Regions from separate parts of the Homo sapiens genome. Here region 1 is linked to region 2. The links come from fine-mapping of genetic effects on gene expression. A gene starts in region 2. The other region holds a variant in brackets. All regions are shown on one strand. Distances are between the middles of the regions.

Region 1 (2,950 bases), 290 kb after region 2:
ATTCTTTCAATCTTGATGTTGCTGAGGACCCCTGAGTTTTCCTGTCAACCTTTCCTAGGCATTCTTCAGTCTTCTGAGTGATTCCAATAGCCTATCAATAAATTCACCCACCAGGTGCAGTGGCAAACGTCTGTAATCCCAGCACTTTGGAAGGCTGAGGCGGGCAGATCACCTGAGGTCAGGAGTTCAAGACCAGCCTGGCTAACATGGTGAAACCCCATCTCTACTAAAAATACAAAAATTAGCTGGGCATGGAGGCACATGCCTGTTGTCCCAGCTACTCGGGAGGCTGAGGGAGGAGAATGGCTTGAACCTGGCTTGAAGGGGAGGTTGCAGTGAGCCAAGATCACGCCACTGTAGTCCAGGCTGGGCAACAGAGATTTTTTTTTTTTCTTAAAATAAATAAATTCACCCACCTTTTTTTTTTTCTTCATTTTCAGCTTAAGTTAGTTTCTGTTGCCTTCTACCTAAAGAAATGTAATTAATGAAAACCAACTCATACTTCAAGGTCTGGTTCAAATACCACTTCTTCTAGTTGTCCCAGATGTCTCTGGATAGAATTTATCTTTTCCTCTCATTCATATTTTTTTTAGTGCTTTCTGCAGCCTGACAGTGGAGTCTATCTAGGTTTACATATGCTCAAATGTTCCTTCAACCCAGGGCCAAGCATTATGCACAGAATAATATAGGCTGGATCTAATTGCGAAGGAAATGGATTTTCATTTAGGGCTTTAATGCAAAGGAATACATCAAGTGACCACATTATTGGGGAAAAAAGAGTTTGGAGGCTAGTCTGGCAAACCTTGGTCTCAATGCTTTTTTGCTATTTCACGTTTATCAGAGGCTGTTGGTATACTGAGGATGAGAGCACTTTCTTCAATAACTGATTAGGTTCAAATCCTGTCTCCACTTACTGGGAGACTGTGAGCAAGTTACTTAATTGTTTTGTGCCTCCAATTACTAATCTGTAAAATGGGGATTGTTAAAATACTACCTCATGGGGTTAAAACATAAAACAGATAAACTTAGAGCTGCTTTGGCCGAATTAGGAGAGATCCAGAGACTCCCTCGCCTGGCATCACCCTACTGGTTGCCACCTCCAAAGGCATCAACTCAGGGACTTAGGGCTGTCTAGATCAATTTGAGACAAACACCAGTAGCCATCCCAGTTGTTAACTAGCCATGTTGTCTAGAACAAAGTATTTACTCACCTGTTTAATGTTAATAAGGAAGTTGAACAGGTGAGTAAATACCTTGTCCAAGACAACGTGGCTAGTTAATGGTAGCCAGGGGCTGAGTGCTCATTCTCCTAACTCCGTCAGCTCTAGTTCTGATGCCAACTATTCCAGCTTAACCCGTCTTACTTTCTTGAACTAGCATTCAAGGTCCTTTATGTGGTCCAGCATATCCCATCTCTCACCTACTGCCACATTTGCTTCAATCATGCCTACTTGTTTTACCTACAATTTACTTCACAATACGCTCATTCCATTTCTGCCCAGCCAACTGCCTTATCCATTCATTCCTTTCCACTTCTATGACTACTAACCTCCCTTTGAATGCTGCAAAATGAAACTCCTCCAGGAACCCATTGGATGAATTATCTTCTATTTTACTCATCCCTTCTAGATTTGAAAACCCTATTATTATTAATCCTTATATCTTTGCAAGATATTCATAGTATATACTTTTGCACTTCTTAACTCGTTAGTTTTTTGAGGCAGGGTCTCACTCTGCCCAGGCTGGAGTACAGTGACT[C/T]GATCACAGTTCATCGCAGCTGGAACTCTCGGCTCAAGTTACAAGTTATCCTCCCACCTCAGCTTCCCAAGTAGCTGGGACTGCAGGCATGTGCCACCACACATGGCTATGTTTTAATTATTATTATTTTTTGTAGAGACAAGGTTTCACTACATTGCCCAAGCTGCTCTTGAACTCCTGGGCTCCAGCAATCTGCCTGCCTTGGCTTCCCAAAGTACTGGGATTATAGGCATGAGCCACCGTGCCCAGCCTTAACTCAATCCGTCACAGATCTTTCACAGCACTTAAAATGAGATGCTAAATTGTGTAATACTGATTACTCTTTCATACTGCCCACAGTGTTTTATGTATTTTTTAATCTTTATAACCTAAGTTTCCCAGTGGCAGGTAGGGATTGCTTGTATCCAGACAGATTTATGTTAGATATATGGGAGGCAGGTCAAACCATGCTTCATCTCCATAGTCTCTAATGATTGGTTCTACTCACCGGAATTCACGTGAGCTTAAGAATAGGCTGTCTTTTAATTTATAAGCCCCAATAGTGCCAAATATAGAGTTCAAGAGACAATGAACAATAAGTATTTGGATACACTTTTAGGTATTTCCTAAACTTTTATGCACTGTGAGCCTAACATGTTCACATCAAGCAAGAAATGAAAATAGGAGAGGGGTTATAAGTGACTAAGTTACTGTGTGTGTGTTGGGTCTCTATCAGCTGTATCCTCTTCCCTCTTCATACACGTGTTACATACTATATGTCAACCTATAGAAACAAGGCAGGAACTTAAGTATTAGGTCCTAGACTATGTGTTACATGCATTACCTTATTTAATAAACACAACTATATTATAAGGTTTTTTTTTATCTTAAACATTAAAATAAAAAACCCAAATGAGGTTAAAAAAAAAAAGCCCCAAATCATATAGCTAAGTCATGACAGAGCTAGAATTTAACCCAAGTCTAACTCCAGAGTCCGTAGTCAACTACCATGCAGTATATGACCCAGAGCAAGTCTTCCACTCTTGTGTGTGTTAAGGGGGGCTACTGAGAGAATATGGTAATGATTAATTTATATAAAATATTTAACACAGTATAGTATCTTACACATATTACCCAATAAGCTGTACTCACTCTCATTACAGTATACTATGACAGGGTTAAATGTCAATAAAACATGCTTTCTGCCCTTGAA
Region 2 (2,500 bases):
GAGAGCGCCCTTGGCGTCCATCAGCATTGTAAACACGTACTAGTGTATATACTTCAAAATTAAAGAATGCACACGCAGAACCGGGAGCCTGAATTCATATTCTGAGCAGACTCGCTTCTCGCATTTATTGATTTATCATGCATCGTTTATTGTTCCAGTCCCTAAATGCAGTCGCTGTCCGTTCAATATTGTTTGCGAAATCCTAAGATGTGTGTGCACTGCTCACTTGTCTCTTTTTTTTTTGCTGAGTATTTTTTTGCGAAGCGAACAAATGCATTAATATTTATATGTTTATATAATCGATAACCCACTTTTCCCTTCCATGTAAATAGGCATCAAAAGATAATTTAACAGATTAGTTCTCGAAAACATGGCAGTGAGGAAGCGTAATTTAACTATCAAACAAATCTACATGTCTAATAACAGCAAATCTGCTAAGAAGCATTAGAAAGAGGAGCAGCGCCCCGGAATCTCTGCAGGAAATGTTCTTTATATTAGACATATACAAGCAGGTCCTGTCAGATGCACAGTGGAGCTCGCTACCCCTCCTCTCCTCCAAAAATCTCATCAGACGATATCCCAGACAGGAGCGGTTAGAGAGAGAGGAATCACATCTCCACACAGTTTTAGGGTGCTTTTTATTTTTACAAATCTTCTTGTGTGTTTTTTGCCTTGATCCATCCTCTTCCCGCCGAGATCGTATGGCGCCTTTCTCTCGATTATGAATTTGATCAATCCATCTTTGGAAGAAAACCCACATAGTTTTTTCAGGAGCTGAAAATTGAGTCGTTATAGAAATATTAGGACATATTTTCAATCATTTCGGTGCCCGAAGGGAGGCAAGAGCTCAGTTTTATATTGAGACATTACGCCGGCTGAAGGCAGAGAATGCGTTTCCCTGCCAGGACCTGATGCAATCCATTCAAGCCAACAAGTTTGGAGAGAATGTTGAGTTCAATCAATTCAGAACGTCGAGATGGAGCCCAACTCACTCCAGGTATTTCGCTCTCCTCCGCTCCTCCGATCCCGGCACCCCCCGGCACCCCCCAACCCCCCAGCTCACCCACACCTCTGCACCCACCCACACCCCCCACAAACTTTTCACCAAACTTTTACCCTCTGCATCCCCCAAAATCATTTTTATTGTTTAAAAAAATCCCTGCACTGATCATACATACATAATGTAATTTTACCGCCTCAAATGGGGAGGTGGGTAGAAGTGGCGGTGGGGGGCCCTGAGTTTTTTTTTTTTTTTTTTTAGGGAAGCAGAAAATTTGTGGGTGCTATTATTTTTCCACCCAGCGTTATATCTGTTGGGTCGTCTGTATTAAGAGAGTGGATGTCTGTGTGTAAATGTGTCTGGGAATAGATGTTTGTGCTCTGATGGCTACATTATTTATTTGGTGTTTTTTTCCCCCCCTGCAGTGGGTCGGCTCACCGTGTGGCTTGCACGGACCTTACATTTTCTACAAGGCTTTTCAATTCCACCTTGAAGGCAAACCAAGAATTTTGTCCCTTGGCGACTTTTTCTTTGTAAGATGTACGCCAAAGGATCCGATTTGCATAGCGGAGCTCCAGCTGTTGTGGGAAGAGAGGACCAGCCGGCAACTTTTATCCAGCTCTAAACTTTATTTCCTCCCAGAAGACACTCCCCAGGGCAGAAATAGCGACCATGGCGAGGTGGTAAACCTGTCTGTCCCCCTCTTCTTTCTTTATTATTTTTCCCCCTAGTAATGCTTATTACAGGGCAAGCTTGAAAATACTGTATTCACTTCTGCAGGCAAGCAGGATCGACTCCTTTTTTAAAGGGGTAGCGCCACTAGCTGGGGCTCGAGTATTTTGCCATTGTCAGAGTTTGGCTGTCAGCTTTACAAAGAGGATCCAACTGCTGATTTTAGTCAAGATCAAATAACTTGTTCGAGAAGGGTTTTGTTCAAGGATGTGTGTGTGTGTGTGTGTGTGTGTGTGTATGTGTGTGTGTGTGTTCATTTGCTCTCCTGCTATTGCCTCTTGAACATCACATGCTTTTTATATTTTTTGCCTTTTGAAAATTTACCTTCGTGTCTGGCTCGGTCGTGTCTGGGTGGATTTCTTTCGGTGGGTTTCGATATTGTTCTTTTTTCAAAGTAAGTATTTGATATGTTTAAGAGGGCGGAAATTACGAAATGGAGGCAGAATGAGATCAAAAGCTATTGAGTTGGCAAAGACGTGTTGAATAAAGTGATAAATGACAGGTACTGGAATAATACATTCAAATAACTTGCAGATCTGCCCGGGCGGATTTCAAAGCGGTGGTGTAACAGGCACAAACACGTTAAGCATTAACAACTATCTCTCGCCCACTCCCCCTCCCCCCGGACAAGCCATTTGATGTTCTAGTTTGCAATTACTCCACGCAAAGTGGACGTCCTCCTGCGCGATCTTTGGGGGTGTGTGGGACGGGGGCGGGGGAGGGGAGGGCAGAGGGGTGTGTGCTCGCCCACTGGCCCTGCGGGTCCAG

The links. PIP is the estimated chance that this variant, and not a neighbour inherited with it, causes the effect.
Region 1: its variant is the best candidate, but not a certain one, in a credible set for the expression of ARID5B in whole blood (INTERVAL, PIP 0.66).

Annotation. Positions count from the first base shown.
Region 1 is chr10:62,189,436-62,192,385 of GRCh38, forward strand. It overlaps a transcript of RTKN2 not described here. Among named protein-coding and RNA genes, the nearest start is that of LINC02621, 68 kb to the right of the region's middle. The variant C/T (reference allele first, on the strand shown) is at 1,759.
Region 2 is chr10:61,900,734-61,903,233 of GRCh38, forward strand. It overlaps ARID5B (AT-rich interaction domain 5B), which reads left to right and starts at 966. Exons shown (of 10, transcript NM_032199.3): 1 at 966-997; 2 at 1,426-1,680. The coding sequence starts at 977. RefSeq lists an enhancer at 656-1,158 and a silencer at 2,398-2,500.